Linked DNA regions of Homo sapiens. The protein of the gene in region 2 purifies or fractionates together with the protein of the main gene of each other region. This does not show direct contact. Each region holds a gene or a part of one and is shown on either strand. Other genes may lie near its edges.

Region 1 (4,714 bases), on a different chromosome or scaffold from region 2:
AGAGACGGTTTCACCGTGTTAGCCAGGATGGTCTCGATCTCCTGACCTCATGATCCGCCCGCCTCGGCCTCCCAAACTGCTGGGATTACAGGCATGAGCCACCGTGCCTGGCCGGCTTTTGCATTTAAACAGTATCTTTATGGTCACTGAGTTTTTTCTTTTCTTTTTTTTTGAGACAGAGTCTTGCTCTGTTGCCCGGGCTGGAGTGCAGTGGTGCGATCTCAGCTTGCTGCAACCTCCACCTCCCAGGTTCAAGTGATTCTCCCGCCTCAGCCTCCTGAGTAGCTGGGATTACAGGCACACACCACCATGCCCAGTTAATTTTTTTTGTATTTTTAGTAGAGATGGGATTTCGCCATGTTGGCCAAGCTGGTTTTGAATGCCTGACCTCGTGATCTGCCCGCCTCAGCCTCCCAAAGTGCTGGGATTATAGGTGTGAGCCACCACACCCGGCCTAGTCACTGAGTTTTAAGACAGCCCTCACCCCTTCTCCAAGGGCATAAGATCCTATGGGACTGGATGGGCAAACTAAGGAAAATACTAATTGCATAGTAATACATGTATCCCTGCTTTTTTTTTTTTTTTGAGAGGGAGTCTCGCTGTCTCCCAGGCTGGAGTGCAGTGGCGCAGTCTTGGCTCACTGCAAGCTCCACCTCCCAGGTTCACGCCATGCTCTTGCCTCAGCCTCCCGAGTAGCTGGGACTACAGGCGCCTGCCACCATGCCCAGCTAATTTTTTTGTATTTTTCGTAGAGACGGGGTTTCACCGTGTTAGCCAGGGTGGTCTCAATCTCCTGACTTCGTGATCTGCCCGCCTCGGCCTCCCAAGGTGTTGGGATTACAGGTGTAAGCCACCACGCCCGGCCGTATCCCTGCTTTTAAGCAAACTAATTTCATGAAAATTTACAGAAAATAGAGCTAATTTATCTGGTTTCCAGACCTTTAGTAATGTTTGTTTTGGAATATATATATATATATATATATTTTTTTTTTTTTTTTTTTTTTTTCTTGAGATGGAGTCTCACTCCTGTGGCCCAGGCTAGAGTGCAATGGTGCAATCTTGGCTCATTACAACCTCTGCCTCCCGGGTTCAAGCCATTCTCCTGCCTCAGCCCCCCAAGTAGCTGGGATTACAGACATGCGCCACCATGCCTGGCTAATTTTTGTATTTTTAGTAGAGACGGGGTTTCTCCATGTTGGTCAGGCTGGTCTCCAACTCCCAACCTCAGGTGATCCGCCCGCCTCGGCCTCTCAAAGTGCTGGGATTACAGGCATGAGCCACTGCGCCCAGCCTTTGGAATATGTATTTTGGATGGCTGCATTTCCTGGATAATTGTGACTTCATTAATGACAATTAAGACAATGTGAAGACTTAAGTAATAAGAGAATAGTTCTGAAAGCCAGGCACAGAAACACCTATGGCAGCATATGGGGGTGGGAAATGGGTGATGAGGAACTTTTCAGAGTCAGAAAAATGTCAAAAGAGCCTTTCTGCATAGATACTATCCAACATACAAAGGGCCTGGTCGCTATTTTAATACTTTTTTCTAAAGACAAGGTCTTGCTCTATCACACAGGCTGGAGTATGGTGGCACAATCATAGCTCACTGCAGCCTCAACTTCCTGGGCTTAAGTCATCTTCTCACCGCAGCCTCTCGAGTACCTGGGACTACAGATATGTGCCACCACACACCTAGCTAATTTTTCTATTTTTTTTGTAGAGAGGAAGTCTCACTATGTTGCATAGGCTGGTCTCTAACTCCTGGGGTCAAGTGATCTTCCTGCCTTGGCCTCCCAAAGTGCTGGGATTACAGGCGTGAGCCACCACACCTGGCCTATTTTAACACTTTTATTCCTGAGGTTTTCAACACTATTAGAAGACTTTCAGTATTCTAAAGACGGAATGTGTGGGCAAAATGAGTTTTCTTGAAATGCATCTATTCTGAACAGCAAGCACTGATCCTCTCTCTTTTTAATGTTATACATGTAGTAAAGCCCAAATTAATTTGAAGGTTTAATTTCATTTGGGAACAGACACTGAACACACAGGCCTGATGATTCTGATTCCATAGTTGCAACACCACAGTTTGATCTGGGCAAACAGCACAGGATGTAATTCATCTCTTACCTCCTTGATAACGTGGTCAAAGGAAGATGAGACTTCTTTCTGTACATTTCCAGGTCCTAACTCCTGGAAATCAAAATCAAAGAAAATAGAGATCTTGATTTTTTTTTTTTTTTTTTTTTGAGACAGAGTCTCGCTCTGTCGCCCAGGCTGGAGTGCAGTGGCACAATCTCGGCTCACTGCAAGCTCCACCGCCTGGGTACAAGTGCTTCTCCTGCCTCAGCCTCCCAAGTAGCTAGGATTACAGGTGCTCGCCACCACGCCCTGCTAATTTTTGTATTTTTAGTAGAGACGGGGTTTCACCGTGTTAGCCAGGATGGTCTCGATTTCCTGACCTCGTGATCTCCACCTGCCTCGGCCTCCCAAAGTGCTGGGATTACAGGCATGAGCCACCATGGGCGGCCGATCTTGACGGTTTTTATTTCTTTTGAGATAGGGTCTCGCTCTGTCACTCACGCGGAGTGCAGTGATGTGATCATGGATCACTGCAGTCTTGACGTCCTGGACTCAAGTGATCCTCTCACCTCAACCTCCCATGTAGCTGAGATACAGAGGTATGTGCCACCAGGCCCCGCTAATCTTTGATTTTCTGTAGAGAAGGGGTCTATGTTGCCCAGGCTGGTCTCAAACTCTTAGATGCAAGTGATCCTCCCACCTTGGCCTCCGAAACTGCTAGGATTACAGGCATGAGCCACCATGCCCAGCCATCCTGATGGTTTCAAACAGAACTGTCCAAACTGGTGGCCACCCCATAGGACAACACTCACTGAGATGAATAGGAGACTGACTACTTGGCTTTTCTCCAAAAGAGGCCCCAAAAGCAGTAACAACTTGCAAGGGAAAGGCCCTCATGCTTAGAAATCAGCTCCAACATACCTCACCCTTGTCACTCTCCTGGTAATGCTATAGAAAAAAAGAAAAAGGATGATTAGGGTTATTACAGTGTCATGTGAAAGAAGACATAAAATGAAAACTCTACTGACAGAAAGTAAATTAGCTGAAGTTTTTTTTAAAGTTTTTGTTTTTTTTTTTAAGCTGCAAATCTTCAGTTAACTTCTACTCATTAATCAACTGGAAATATGGATCTCCAAGATAAACTTGTTGCTAAGTTTAACATATTGGTCAGTTGGAAGAAAAGCAAATGGTCATGAAAACTCTTCTTTGAAAAAAGAAAAGGGGACAGGTGTGGTTGCTCATGCCTGTAATCCCAGCACTTTAGGAGGCCGAGGTGGGCAGATCACCTGAGGTCAGGAGTTCAAGTCTAGCCTGGCCAACATGGTGAAACCCCATCTCTACTAAAAATACAAAAATTAGCGGAGCATTGGGGCGCACGCTTTTAATCCCAGCTCTTAGGGAGGCTGGGGCAGGAGAATCACTTGAACCCAGGAGGCAGAGGTTGCAGTGAGCCAAGATCACGCCACTGCACTGCAGCCCAGGTGACAGAGCAAGAGTCCGTCTCAAGAAAAAAAAAAAGAAAAGGGAAGGCTGGGTGCGGTAGCTCACGCCTATAATCTCAGCACTTTGGGAGGCCAAGGCAGGTGGATCACCTGAGGTTAGGAATTTGAGACCAGCCTGGCCTACGTGGTGAAACTCCATCTCTACTAAAAGTACAAAAATTAGCTGGGCTTGGTGGCGGGCGCCTGTAATCCCAGCTACTTGGGAAGCTGAGACAGGAGAATTGCTTGAACCCGGGGGGTAAAGACTGCAGTGAGCTGAGATCACATCACTGCACTCCAGCCTGGGCAACAGAGCAAGACTCCATCTCAGAAAAAAAGAAAAGGGGCCGGGCATGGTGCCTCACGCCTGTAATCCCAGCACTTTGCGTGGCTGAGGCAGGCGGATCACCTGACGTCAGGAGTTTGAGAACAGCCTGGCTGACATGGCGAAACCCCCTCTCTACTAAAAATACAAAAATTAGCTGGGCGTGGTGGTAGGTGCCTGTAATCCCAGCTACGTGGGAAGCTGGGGCAGGAGAATTGCTTGAACCCGGTAGGTGGAAGCTGCAGTGAGCCGAGACCATGCCATTGCACTCCAGCCTGGGCAACAAGAGTGAAACTCTGTCTCAAAAAAAAACAACAAAAAAACCCAAAAAACGAAAAGGGAACATGCGCAGTGACTCACGCCTGTAATCCCAACACTTTGGAAGGCCGAAGAGGGAGGACTGCTTGAGCCCAGGAATTCAAGACCAGACTGGGCAACATAGTGAGACTTTGTCTCTAAAAAAATAATAATAAATTTAAAGAAATAATTACAAAATAAGAACAACAACAAAAAAGAAAATTCAAGAACTCTGTTTTTTTTTTTTTTTAGATGGAGTTTCACTCTTGTCACCCAGCTGGAGTGCAATGGTGCAATCTCGGCTCACTGCTGGAGTGCAATGGTTCAATCTCAGCTCACTACAACCTCTACCTCCCAGATTCAAGCGATTCTCCTGCCTCAGCCTCCTGAGTAGCTGGGATTACATGCGCCCACCACCACGCCTGGCTAACATCTGTATTTTTAGTAGAGACAGTGTTTCACCATGTTGGCCAGGCTGGTCTCAAACTGCTGACCTCGGCTGATCCACCCGCCTCAGCCTCCCAAAGTGCTG
Region 2 (4,675 bases):
CAGGTTATGAGGACCAGATGGAGCTTAAAAACAGATCCGGAACTTTTTTTTTGAAATTGTATTTACTTTTTTTTTTTGTATCTCAAGAATACTTAAAGGAAAAAAAAAAGGGTTCTATGAGCCAGAGGAATTCCCAATTCACTTTGAAATTACCATACCTATCTTGCCATATCAAACATTTCAATTCTGTTAACTAAATGAACTACATAATATCCTTAAAAATCAGCCAGAGAAGAGAAAAACAAATCTCGTCTTCATTATTGACTTTGAACCAAAACTTATTCTTTCAAAGGAGTAGTTTAACCTACTAAATATGTCTATTATAAGATCTTCTTTCTTAGAAAGTAGTATTCCTTCTTTTTCATTCCTGAAATGGTATTTCTTACACTTAAACAAGTTATGGACAATTGTTAGCTAAGTATCAGTTATGATAAATTGCTAAAATTAAATTATCTGTTTAAGGTACATATAACACATTCCTATAGCCTTTAAAACTGTATTTTCTTTCACAAAAATTTAAATAAATGTGAAAGTAGGCAATCACTAGAAGTCTCATGGTACATAAACTTTGCATCAACTTTGACGCCAAATAAGGATGAAATTTAGCGTACAAATCCTCCGTTCACAAAACAGTGGCAAAAATTTATATTTTTAAATTGGTATAATTTTATGCATTCTCAAACATTTACTGGGAATATTCAAGTTTACCTAATTAATCACCCAGAAAGCCAGCAGTACTGCCAAAAGCTCTTGGTATATTCAGTAGTCACTGTGAAAACTTTTCATTTCTTTACCATTTGGCAATGGCTCAGTTTCTATTTTCCAATTATGTTTTGGAATAAAGTCTATGACCATTAACTATGCATTTTTTGTTGCTATCTCATAGCCCGTGCACTGTACATATTTACAGAGAAAAAAATAAAGGATTGAATTTTCTGTCCATTCATTCATTCACTTATTTGACCATTTGGAGCCATGTAAGAAGCTCACAGACTCAGAAACTCTTCAGCTCTTCCTCAGACTCAAATCACTGTTGGTCACTAATGCTGACAAAGAAGTACTTTCCGACGCATCATCTTTCCTTAGGTTCAAAAATGATTCTCGAGTTATTTGAAGGATCTCTCTCAAGCCTTTGTTTTCTTGCTAAAAGGCAAGCAAAAACAAAGATGCAGTCACTATCTACAAGGTAGCTACAACATCACAAACATATGTTAGGAAAAACTGAACATATGAAGGTATAACAAACAAGCAAGGTCTGTAATTGGCATTAATCTACTCAATGATATATGCAGTTGGCAACTTGAATCTAAAGAACACTTATGCAGCTAGGAATCGTGTTCAACATCTTCCACCACTGCAAAGCCTTCTTACTTAAGCAGCTATAATTGTAAACAGAAGCTCAGAAATTGCCTTATTTTACAATCACATTAGAGATGAAGAAAATAACATCTAGATTTATTTTTATATAAACTCGTAAAGCCAGTGAATAGGCTAGAATCTCCTAGTAATTTTTAGTATTTTTATTACTTTCCATGATAGCATGGAATGTAGGACAAGTTTAGCTCATTGGCATTTGAGAGCAGCAGGGTAGGGGTAGCTGATGATATTTTTCAAGAAGGAAAGTAAGTGACCAAATCTGGCACTGGTAAATAACTTTGCTTTCTGGCCTCCTTTTGGTTAGTTACTGTAAAAAAATTTGTAGACATTTAACAATAACCTTTCATAATTTGTTCTCTATCACTTTATCTTCAGTCTCACTTTCTAAATTTTAGTAGTCTAAAGCAGGTTCCCCGCCGTGATTTCAAAATGAAGCTCTTAAGGCATAAAAGTCTATTGTACTGATTTCAGTTATTCAGAGACTGGTACTTTCACTGTCATAAAATAAAGGACAGATGACAAAGGTTTTTAGAATCCCCAGAAAAATAAGAGTGCCCCTAAATATTTGTGGATTAAAAAAAATTTCCCTGTATCACTATGATCTCTAATAGAATAAACAAAATTTTAAAAATGACTCAATTGAAGAAGTACATTCACTTCATAAGATAAGCAATATAGAATGAAACATCAATTTTCTACATTACTGGTATATTGTAAGTTACTAATAATCCTAGATTCTTGCATCACCACATAAATGGTCTTGCATAATATGCCCACATAGACAGCATCCAGGAGAACATTACCAGTACCCAAGAAGAGTAAATATATATTTAAAAATGGGATATATTTTCTGGCATAAATCTTTATATGGACAGTTTTCATCTACATTTGCAATGTAAAACTTACTTCAAGTTGAAATATTCGTTCTTGTTCCTTGCAACCCTGTTGCTCGTCAATTTCAATGGCTTTCCTCATTACTGCTGCCATTTCAGTTATCTGGTCAACATGTGCTTGCAGTTCCTGAAAAAGAGGGATGGGAGTTGGAAATCAGCAAAATACTTTTTTATTTTTGGATCCTCTCCTTTTTATAAAATCTGCAGTACCACTTAACATGAATATTCTTACATTGTCACTTAATATGAATAAAACAAATATTAACAATGAAGTTGGTTGACCACAGATGTGCTTTTGAAATCAAATTTGTTAGGACTAGAATTAAGAATAAGCAGCACAATATAACTAAACCTAGCAGCAAGAAAAATACTCATATTTTACATTCCTCTCACCACAATGATCAGCAACTTTTTCTTTTTTTTTGCACTTACATACACTATTGTTCAAAGTAACGGGAATGATAAAAATTGCCGACGCATTCAATCTCTTTTCCTCCCTGAAGTCTTCAATGATTTAGAAATCTTTTCTGTATTGTTCAGGCCTATAAAGTTATCTCAATCCAATCTGTAACCTTTTCTAGGTCATAATCCTCTTTGAGAGCAGGAACTGCATCTTTACATCCACCTACTATCTAGTGTATGGTATATGGTAAGTATTGAATAAAATGAGCACAATTCTGCTTTTCAGTATTAAAATATTAAATGGCCTTCTTTGCTAACTATTGAAAATATAGTATCAGTATAATACAGACATCCACATTTGTTAGGCGCAGCAAGTAGCATAAATTCTTCCAATCTCATTTTCTTATCTTGCACACCTATGATGTGCCAGTACTATGCTAAACAACAGGAATACAAAGACTGTCAAGACATGTCCCCTGATCTGAAGAAGCTTACAGTCTAGTGAAAGAGACAGACAAAAAAGGTTTAAAATCAACAGAAACTCGAGAATAATCATTTTCTCAATGAACAGCTTCTATAGACCATTATTCACAGCAACTGAGAGGTATTTTATCATATTAAGCCTAAGACTTAAATATAAAAGTGAATAACTCCCCAAATAAACAGTCTCTTCAGTAGTTGTGTATATATATATTTGTAAAAAGGATTTAACAGTACTCCAAGAAACCCACGGAACTAATAAGCTGGAAGAAATGACAAGGTAGTATCTTTGGCAAAGCACATTTAATAACCTCTTAACCAACAAAAATGTAGGTCCTTTTCATGGGGAAACCTATACACTGCTAGTACTCAGCAAGAAGGTACTCTAAAAGGCTAATCTGTGCTGTCCAAAACAATGTTAAACTTAATTAAAATCAATACATTTTTAAAAATTAACAATTCAGTCCCTCAAACGCATTAGTGACACTGCAAGTGCTCAACAGCCACATGTGGCTACTGGCTTCCACACTGGACAGCACAGATAAAAAACATTCCAATCATTTCAGAAAGTTCTACTGGATAGTTTTGAATTAGATTATGGTAGGAAGAATGATATTAAGACAAGTATCTGTCATATTCTGCAAGTTAACCATTAAAATTCCTCCCATTGTCAAGGAAGCATAATATGTAAAAGCAGGTTAAGTACAGATCATTGCAGCTGCAAACTGAGTAAGGGTAATGAGTAAAAACTTTGAATACCAACAGCATCCTCAATTTATGATTTGGTCAGTCCTATGGCACTGACCTAAGTTAAAAAACTACACAGAAAGCAAGCATTTCTTTTTTTTTAGACAGAGTCTCGCTCTTGTTGGCCAGGCTGGAGTGCAATGGCACGACCTCGGCTCACTGCAACCTCCCACTCCCAGGTTCAAACAATTCTCTTGCTTTAGCCTCCCGAGCAGCTGGGATTACAGGCACCCGCTATCACGCCTGGCTAACTTTTTGTATTTTTAGTAGAGATGGGGTTTCACCATGTTGGCCAGGCTGGTCTCCAATTCCTGACGTCAGGTGATCCACCCACCTCAGCCTCCCAATTACAGGCATGAGCCACCATGCCTAGCTGAAGCAAGCATTTCTTTGCCTTTAAAATAGAAGGAAAAAAACTACTGATTTTTTCAGTACCAAGTCTAACAAAGCTCATCATGAGAAAAAACCCAATACTTCAAATAGGGCAGCACTTTTATAAAAGGTCATGGTAATGGTTCACTTATTTAATTATAAAATCTTCAGAGAAGTATCACAGATTTTTTAACAAGCACAAGAGGCAAGATCTGTGCTTTCAAAACTGTCTGGAAGACAAGAAGTGTCACCAACATAACCCTTGAACTGTCTTGAAATGTCTTTCATTTCTAACTCCCTGTCTAGGTTTATTCCTCCTTTATTCAATAAAGACCTGCCACAAGTGAGTTAAAAAAAAATTAAGACACAATGGAGAGAGCACTACTATACTTAATCCTAACATC
Region 3 (4,714 bases), on a different chromosome or scaffold from region 2:
GTTATCTGCAAAGGGTCAAGGGTAGTACTTACTAGAAAGAAGCACAAAGGGGACTTTTGACATGCTAAGAATGTTCTGTTTTTTTTATCTGGGTGCTGTAAGTGATTTCAGCTTGTGAAATTTATGACAGCTGCACTTTCCTACAGGGTTTTTTTATTTCTATAAAAAGGTTAAAAAATTAGTTAAGGGTAACCATCAAAACAATAATAAATTAAAAGTATATCTTCCAAATCAGCAGAATTTAAAAAAGAGAGAGAGAGGGATAAAGAAATTTAATCTAATGGGAAAAGAAGAAGAAAAAAGGAAAAAAAGGAATATTTCAACACAGCTAAAAGAACTTTAAATGTTCCCAACACATAAAAATGATAAAAGCTTGAGATGCTGGATACCCCATATACCCTAACTTAAATCATTTATGCATGTAACAAAACATCACATATACCCCATAAGTATGTACAAATATGTATCAATAAAAAAAATTTTTAAATATGCATTTAAAAAAAAGAAAAAAGGAAAAAACATGATATAAAGAAAGTCCAAAATAAGGCCAGGCGTGGTGGCTCATGCCTGTAATCCTAGCACTTTGGCAAGCCAAGGCGGGCGGATCACCTGAGGCCAGGAGTTTGAGATCAGCCTAGCCAACAAGGCAAAACACCATCTCTACTAAAAATACAAAAAATTAGCTGGGCATGGTGGCGTATGCCTGTAGTCCCAGCTACTCGGGAGGCTGAGGCACAAGCATCACTTGAACCTGAGAGGCGGAGGTTGCGGTGAGCCGACACTGCACCACTGCATTCCAGCCTGGACGACAGAGTGAGACTCTGTCTCAAAAAAAAGAAAGAAAGTACAAAATAAAATAATAACACAAATATGCAGTGACTACAATAAATATAAATGGATCAAAATGACAAGTTAAAAGTGGGAGATTCTCAGTAAGATTTTTAAAAATCTAGCTGAATATAACATAACGGTTTTTAAAAATTATAAAAGATCACAGAAAGTTTGATGTATAGGGATGGAAAAATTATAAGCCTGGCAAACATCAGTCAAAAGAAGGCTGGTGTAGCTACATTATCATCAAACAAAAAAGATTTTAAGACAAAATTCACTATTGGAAATCATGAAGACAACTTCAAAATGATAATAGAAACAATTCACCAGAAAGATATATAACAATTCTAAGATTAAATATATCAATAAGATAGCCTCAAAATTAATACAATTAAAAGAAGAAACTGGCTGGGTGCAGTGACTTACACTTGTAATCCCAGCACTTTGTGGGGCTGAGGTGGGCAGATTGCTTGATCCCAGCAGTTCAAGACCAGTCTGGGAAACATTGCAAAACCCAGTCCCTACAAAAAATACAAAAATTACCAGGCATGGCCGTGCGTGCCTGTAGTCCCAGCTACTTGGGAGGCTGAGGTAGGAGAATCAGTTGAGCCCAGAAGATTAAGGTTGCAGTGGGCTGTGATTGCACTGCTGCACTACAGCCTGGGCAAGACCCCGTCTCAAAAAACAACAAAAAAGGAGAAACTGATCAATCTACAAGCATACTAGGAGAGTTCAATATACCTTCCTTGATAACCGATAAGTAAGCAAATAAAAAAACAGAAAAGTTGATCAATAAAATTAGTCAATTTGATCTAATACAATACACCCAAGAAAAAAAGAATACACATTATTCTCAAGCACACTTGGACCTTCTATGAAACAACCATGTTTTACACACAAATCAAATCTCAACAAAAATAAAAGAATCTATATCATATAGAACATGCCTTCTGAACAGAGTAGAATTAAGCTAACCCCAAAACAACCATTTGTTTGAAAAACTTTAAACACTTCTTAATAAACACTCATGGGCTATAAAGAAATGCATAATGGAAATGTTTAAATATTGAGAAATGACCATAATAAAAATATTCAATGTCAAAAACTCAAGTCAGACACGATGGCTCAACACCTGTGATCCCAGCGCTCTGGAAGGCCAAGGCGAGAGGATCACTTGAGCCCAGGAGTTCAAGGTTACAGTGAGGTATGATTGTGCCACTGCACTCCAGCCTAGGCAACAAAGCAAGACCTTATCTCTAAAATAAATAAACAACCTTATAGGAAGCATTTAAAGTTGTATTTAGACAGAAACTTCTAACCTTAATACTTTAAAAACAAAACAAAACAAAACAGGCTGGGCGTGGTGACTCATGCCTGTAATTCCAGCACTTTGGGAGCCCAAGGTGGGCGGATCACCCAAGGTCAAAAGTTCGAGACCAGCCTGGCCAACATGGCGAAATCCCATCTCTACTAAAAAAAAAAATACAAAAATTAGCTGGGCGTGGTGGCAAGTGCCTATAGTCCCAGCTACTTGGGAGGCTGAGGCAGGAGAATTGCTTGAACCCAGGAGGACAAGGCTGCAGTGAGCTGAGATCATGCCACTGCACTCCAGTCTGGGTGACAGAGGGAGACTCCATCTCAAAAAAACAATAAGAAATAAAAATAAAGAAGAAAGTATTATGCACAATGGTAAGATATGAAAACAACCAAAGTGTCTGTGGATAGAGAAATGATGTGGGTGCATGTATGGGTGTGTGTGTTTGTGTATAAAGTGGCATATTATTCAACCTTAAAAAACGAGACCTTGCCATTTGCCATGGATGAACCCGGAGGACATTACACTAAGCAAAATAAGCCACACACAGAAAAATACTGCATGATTATACTTGTATGCAGAATCTCAGGGTTGGGGTTTGCTTGTTTGTATTTTAGACAGGGCCTCACTCTGTCACCCAGACTGGAGTGCAGTGGTGCGATCTCAGCTCACTACAGGCCTCAACCTCCCTGGGCTCTGGTGATTCTCCCATCTCAGCATCCTGAATAGCTGGGACTACAGGCGCATGCCACCATGCCTGGCTAATTTTTGTATTTTTTTTGTAGAGAAGAGGTTTCACCACATTGCCCAGACTGATCTTGAACTCCTGGGCTCAAGTGATCCACCCGCCTCGGCCTCCCAAAGTGCTGGAATTATGAGCATGAGCCACCATGCCTAACCACATGCGGAATCTACAAAAAAGATGAATACACACAGAGAATAAAATAATACTTAGCAGGGGTCAGCGGGGTGGGGTGGTGGTGGTGGTGAGGAAATGGAGAGATATAAATCAAAGGATACAAAGTAGTAGATATGTAGGATGAACAAGTCTGGAGATCTAATGTACAATAGGAGGACTATAGTTAGTAATATTGTATTATACTCTGGATTTTTTGCTAAGACAGATTTTATGTGCTTTCGCAAAAAAAAAAAAAAGGAGGTAACTATGTAAGATAATGGATATGTTAATTTGCATGTATGTAACCATATCACTGCATGTATATCAAAGCATCATGTTTATAATAAAATTTTTCAAAGAAAAAAAGAAAACAGGAAAGACCAAAAATTAATGAACTAATTGTCCAACTCAGAGGATAGAAACAGAACAAGTACACAGGAGAAAGTAAATAATAAAGAACAGAAATCATAAAATTGCAAAAAAGAGAGATCAAAAAATTAAAGACTCTTTTAAAAGGTTTATAACTTCTGTCAAGAACAATTAAGAAAAGAAGAAAGTAGATGCAGATAAATAATATTAAGAAAGAAAAAATGGACATGACTATAAAAATAGTAGAAATCTTAATAAGAGACTATTATGAACAACTTTATATCAACAACTTTGAAAGGTCAAAAAAATGAAAAATTTCCTAAAATATATAACTTACTAAATCAAGAGAAAAATCTAAGCAGTCTCATAATCATTAAAGGAACCAATTCTATGATTTAAAGTCTACCTACACACACACACACACACACACACACACACACACACACACACCAGATTCATATTACTTTACAGGCAAGTTCTATCAAACACGCAAGGGGCCGGGTTTTGCCATGTTGGCCAGGCAGGTCTCCAACTACTGACCTCAAGTGATCCACCCACCTTGGCCTCCCAAAGTCCTGGGATTACAGACGTGAGCCATCGTGCCTGGCCTAAATCTTTTTCCTTTATAAATTACCCAGTCTCAGGTTTTTCTTCATAGCAGCATGAGAACAGACTAACACAGTCTATGTGTCTGTTTTTATGCCCATACCATGCTGTTTTGGTTACTATAGCTCTGTGGTATAATTTGAAGTCAGGTAATATGATTTCTCCACATACATAACTCTTAAGGTTAACATATAAGAAGTGTTTCCTATAAAGTCAGGACTAAAACAAAGATGCCTATTATCACCAGTCACATTTATTCAAATTACACTAGAGTTCCTAGCCAATCCAATGACAGTGAGGGGAGGAGAGGAGAAGGGAGGGCAATAGGACAGGAGGGGAGAAGAATGGAAAGGGACATATGTGCACCACAACACATGTACAAGAATGCTTATACTAGCATTATTTGTTTTAGCTCAAAACTGGAAACAACCCAAATGTCTGTTAACTGTAGGATGGATATTAAATTGTGGTATATACTTTCAGTAGAATATCATTAAAAAAATAAAAATGCACAAACAACCATTATGTGCACAACATGGACATATCTCACAAATAGATTATTACCACAGAAGTCAGACACAAAATCCATACTGACGTCACAAAGGACAAAACTAATCTGTGGTGTTAAAGTCAATATAGTGGGTTATCTATCCTTACAGTGAGACAGTAACAACTCAAAGGGACATGTGGTAAGT
Region 4 (4,714 bases), on a different chromosome or scaffold from region 2:
AACCTGGAAATACATGTTAACTAGTTTATTCATAAAATTAAAGGGATATATCAAACTTAAAAACATGCTTTATTCAGATAGTATGAACAAGTTTGTCAACAGACTTTCTTAAATATTAAAACTTTTAAACAATTAAAGCTATAGGCTACTGATTTTTCATATAGCTCACTTTTCCTATCCCAAACAATCAGCATACCTTGCATTTTCTGATGATCTGTTTTGCATTCCCTTCACAGATCACTGAAAACTGAGGCTTTACCTGGATCAAGAAAGCGACTTCTATATCCTCTCACATGTTCATCTATTTCTTAAGCTGCTGCCTATCAAACAGACACCATTTATATATCTCCAGGTACCGTCCCATCCATCGATTTACCCACATATATCTCAAACATTTTCATTATGGCTCTAAAGAAACTCTTCCTTAATCTATCATTTTTGTTAAAAACCATACACAACCCCAGGATGGGTGGAGACATGTTTGCTTAAATGCTTTTGTTTTTATTTGTTTCCTATCCCCCTTCACTAGCACATCTAACCAAGAGCTAACTCCAATTACTGCCTCAGTAGCCACATGAGGGCCATGTTGTGTGAGACCAGCAAGGCCGGCCTCCCTGAGACCCTCAGGACAGCACAGGGTGCTTTAAGAGAGCCTCATCCCAGAGCCACGGTCAGCCTGCCCTGCAGAGGACCACACATGGTGACACAGGCCAGGTGGCAGGCCTGAGGGTGTGAGGGCTCTGCCTCAGGAACTATGAGTGCTCTGGAGGTCTGAGACTCACCTGACCTTGGGAGCCCACGGGAGCCCTTTGGGGCAAGTCAGCCTGTCAGTCTGTGGGTGCTGTAGCGGGGGAGGCATCACTTCATCCCGTTCCAGGGGAAACGTCTCCCCCTCCAGACTGTTGTCATCATCATTCTCCTCTTCCTCTTCTCGAGAGTCATCAGCCTTGTAGGGATCCCGCTCGTTGAAGGCATCTAGGTTGTCCTGCTTTATCAGAGCCTGAAACCAGGGAAGGGAGATGAGACAAGAGCCAACTGAGGACGCAGACCAGGGAAGTGCAGCCAGAGGAGACACAGCACATACAGGTGTCCAGTAGAGGCAAGAACAGTGGAAAAACCACAGTGGGAGTCAAGACGGGGGCCAAACCATCAACTACTTCTTGCTCCAGTCCCTCAAAAGCACCACGTGCTGAGCACTCACCATACACTGGACCAGAGCTGGGGACAAAGTATCCTCGCTGTGGAGGCATGATTCTGACTGGCTGATCAGAGATCATTTCCAGCAGCCCTGCTCCTCCAAGGACTGTGCTGCTGCAAGCATGCACCTTGAGGGCCCTCAGGAGTCACAGGGACCTCTGTCGTCCTCACCTTGTGCTCTCGGCGGCCCCGTTTCTGCTGCTGCTCAATCAAGTCTGAAGCAGATGCTGGTGGAGAGGCTGCTCTCATGTTGCGAATCACTTTGATGCTGTCCTCAGGAAGCGGGGGGAGGCCCAGGATGCTGCGCTTCTCAGCCTTCATGCTCTGCAGCTCCTCAAAGCCGCCTAGCGTGCACTGCATCACAGACAGGGAAGCAGAGCCAGGGTCAATGTGTCCACAGGCTGGCCCCTGACCATTGTGTCAGGCTCAGAAACATTCATGACATCATGACCCATGTCTTTATAGAGACCCAGGCAACTCCTGAACAATGGACTGAAGCCACTCCCAAGGAGAATTCCGTGACATCCGCAAGGGAAAGGAGAAAAAGGAACAAGGAAAGAGTGGAGATGCAGGCTGACTGACCCTAGTGCAGATACACTAACTCTGCACCTATGACATACTCTTCAATTTAAAAAGAAGCAAAGAGCCTAACCCTGCAAGTTCCTAGAAAAGTTGGTGAGACTCATGTTTCACAAGTTGTACATGCAAGTCTTTCAAAGTCAAATTAGAAATACTGTTGGTTGCTCAACTTTAGAAGAAGAAAAAAAGCTTCATCTAAACATCTCCCAAGAAGCAGAAACGCCAGCAACATCCAGCTTTAGACTGCTTAGTTTTACTGTTTCTGAGCAATTCAGCTTTCCTCTCTAGCCTTAGCAAGGCTTTATGAAGAACAGAATGTGTGGCCAAGATAAAATGTGTCAATGACTTTTAAGAAATCCTATACTTACTGAGCCCTGGCTCCAGAGTTGACCCATTCTGAAAGGAAGGATGAGCCCCAGTGTAGCAGAGGCCCAACTCACCTCCACCGCCTCCCCATGTCACTCCTCCTGGGAAGGCCTCCTGGCATGGCCTGGCTGCTAACAACGCTCCAAGCCCAGTGTGCTGGACGGCCCACTCTGGCACCCAGTCCCTCCCTACCTAGACACAGAGTCGGGCTGACACCATACCCTGAAGAAAATGGAGGCTGGCTCAGGGCTCACTCTTGCCCCTTTAAGTGATATCCAACCAGGGCCCCAATTACATCAGCTGTAACTTTGCCTCAAATCCCTTTACAAACTCCAGGTCCAGAGCTGCTTGCTGAGAGGCAACTTGTCTGGGGGAGAGCTGTTCTATGACAGAAAACAGCTTCCGGGGTCAGAGAGCCAACAGCCTACTCTGACTCAAGGCCTATGTCCTCGTTGGCTGCAATGGGACAATAGTGGCCCTTCTTTTGTCATCTCCTTTTAGCAGCTTTTTAAATAATTTTTTTTACCAAAGCAGTTTTACAGTCACATAATTCAATATTCAAAAGGATATTCAAGGAACAGTCTCCCTACTGCCCATCCCATAGCACCGTTCTCCTCCTCCAAGGAGGTGCTCACCAATACTGTCTTCCAGAGCAGCAAGAGAACTTTCTTCATGGGAAAGTGAGGGGCGTGACCACTGCAAAATTTGGTCACCATCCCAAACAGCATGATGGCAAATGGCTCATTGTTGTACAGCGGGGAGCCTGGAGGTGACACAAAGGTATCAGGACCCTCCCAAAGCCTTCCGCCTCAGCTTCCAGGCAGGGCCTCTAGAGAGGATCCCCAGGGTCCTACCCAGCTCGGCTCTGAAGGTCTGCCGCATGGTCCTCCACTCAGCCTTGTCACCCTCACACTCCTGATGAACGGTCTCCACTATCAGGTACATGATGTTGAGCAGGACCCTGAGGACAAGAGCCAGCTCACAATGGAGTGGGATGGGGGGGTCAAAGGAGCACCCTAGTGTCTAACAAAGTGCTTACACAAAGCAGGGGCTTACTATTAATAAATGGTATCTGAATAAATGAGTATGAACAAGAATGGCCAAAAGCATTTACCACCCTAAGCTTCCTGAAAAGAAAAAAACCACAGAGGTGGTAGCGAGCTGTAGGGTCAAAGCAGAACAGGGTCACAGTGAGAACAAAAACAGGGTTTATGATGAGGAAATGGAAAGCAGGAGCTGAGAGGTGACGCCCAGGGATCCTAACACCCGGGAGGCAACACTACAACCACCTAGTCTAAAAACTTCCAAATTCATAAAAAGAGCCAGATTTCAACCCTCAAAAACTGAGGGGTGATCTTGGTGGTCAGCAGTTGCTGTGAGCTCCTGGGCAGCCATGAAACATTAGGAAGCTGTCAGGTCTAACCCAATGAAGATGAGCATCAAGCTGTGTACACAAGAAGGTGGGAGTCCAGGGAACACCATCAAGTGTTTCATCCAAATACAAAATACCCCACGACCAGGTCCTGAGTAACAGTGTGAGTAGGAGGCCACACTTAGCTGTGGCTCTAGTAAGTCACTTGACCCTGGATTGCCTTTGGGAGTCTCAACCCAGAGTCCCACCTAGGACGAGCCCTCAGCAGTTCCTACTAATCATTCACACTGAGCCCATCACACATGCAGATGATGTGTACAGAAGCACACACAGCAATGACACCCACAGACAGCCTCCCACACCCTGCTCTGATCTCATCTCTGACTAACGCTCAGGAGCCCAGGCTTGCTGCTCGCCTCACCTGAGGTCTGTGCTGTCAGCCAGGGAGATGGCAGGCTTCCTCACAGCACTGCTGCAGGCGGCACTGTTGCTGCAGGAGATTTTGAGAGTCAGCATCTTCCTCCAAGAAGGAAGATAAGTGATGTCCCTGACAAGTACTGACCAATGGGGAAACAAAATGCTGTGATACGTGCTTGGACTGCACAAGAGGCCACAGGACACGGTGGTTAAGAAACCAGACCATGGCTGGGCATGGTGGCTCATGCCTGTAATCCCAGTACTTCGGGAGGCCGAGGCGGGTGGATCACCTGAGGTCAAGAGTTTGAGACCAGCCTGGCCAACATGGCGAAACCCCATCTCTACTAAAAATACAAAAATTAGCTGGGTGTGGTGGCAGGCACCTGTAAACCCAGCTACTCAGAAGGCTGAGGCAGGAGAATAGCTTGAAGCCGGGAGGTGGAGGTTGCAATGAGCCAAGTTCACGCCATATCACTCCAGCCTGGGCAACAGAACAAGACTCTCTCTCAAAAACAAAAACAAAAACAAAAAAAACACAAAAACAAAAACAAAAAACCCAGCCATGCACTGGACTGCCACGGTTTGAATCCTGGCTCTAACTGCGCCTTAGTTTCCTCATCTGTAAAATGGGGATGACAGTAGTACCTATATCCTTAACATGAATTAGCACATGTAATATTCTGAGAACAATGCCCGGGACACACAGGCACTCAATGAGCTGTCTTAGCTTTATCATTGATGGTGTTATCCTTAGATGAGCAGCAGCTGACCTGTCCACTGGAC

The links. The genes of interacting proteins can lie anywhere in the genome.
Region 1: the proteins of FGFR1OP2 (region 2) and MTCH2 purify together in Homo sapiens (co-immunoprecipitation; one large-scale study listed by IntAct). This does not show direct contact.
Region 3: the proteins of FGFR1OP2 (region 2) and MRRF purify together in Homo sapiens (affinity purification with mass spectrometry; one large-scale study listed by BioGRID and IntAct). This does not show direct contact.
Region 4: the proteins of FGFR1OP2 (region 2) and STRIP1 purify together in Homo sapiens (affinity purification with mass spectrometry; 3 studies listed by BioGRID and IntAct, with this or other methods). This does not show direct contact.

What each region holds. Positions count from the first base shown.
Region 1 is NC_000011.10:47,632,545-47,637,258, forward strand, and holds part of MTCH2 (mitochondrial carrier homolog 2), read right to left. Parts: intron 3,028-4,714; coding exon 3,001-3,027; intron 2,191-3,000; coding exon 2,128-2,190; intron 1-2,127. UniProt on the Homo sapiens protein: Protein insertase that mediates insertion of transmembrane proteins into the mitochondrial outer membrane. Catalyzes insertion of proteins with alpha-helical transmembrane regions, such as signal-anchored, tail-anchored and multi-pass membrane proteins.
Region 2 is NC_000012.12:26,961,064-26,965,738, reverse strand, and holds part of FGFR1OP2 (FGFR1 oncogene partner 2), read right to left. Parts: intron 2,398-4,675; coding exon 2,284-2,397; intron 1,144-2,283; coding exon 1,006-1,143; 3' UTR 1-1,005. UniProt on the Homo sapiens protein: May be involved in wound healing pathway.
Region 3 is NC_000009.12:122,273,683-122,278,396, reverse strand, and holds part of MRRF (ribosome-recycling factor, mitochondrial isoform 1 precursor), read right to left. Parts: intron 1-4,714. UniProt on the Homo sapiens protein: Responsible for the disassembly of ribosomes from messenger RNA at the termination of mitochondrial protein biosynthesis. Acts in collaboration with GFM2. Promotes mitochondrial ribosome recycling by dissolution of intersubunit contacts.
Region 4 is NC_000001.11:110,039,925-110,044,638, reverse strand, and holds part of STRIP1 (striatin-interacting protein 1), read right to left. Parts: exon of another isoform or gene 4,702-4,714; intron 4,005-4,701; coding exon 3,936-4,004; intron 3,104-3,935; coding exon 2,997-3,103; intron 2,906-2,996; coding exon 2,778-2,905; intron 1,552-2,777; coding exon 1,369-1,551; intron 1,001-1,368; coding exon 783-1,000; intron 321-782; coding exon of another isoform or gene 302-320; exon of another isoform or gene 1-301. UniProt on the Homo sapiens protein: Plays a role in the regulation of cell morphology and cytoskeletal organization. Required in the cortical actin filament dynamics and cell shape. Part of the striatin-interacting phosphatase and kinase (STRIPAK) complexes.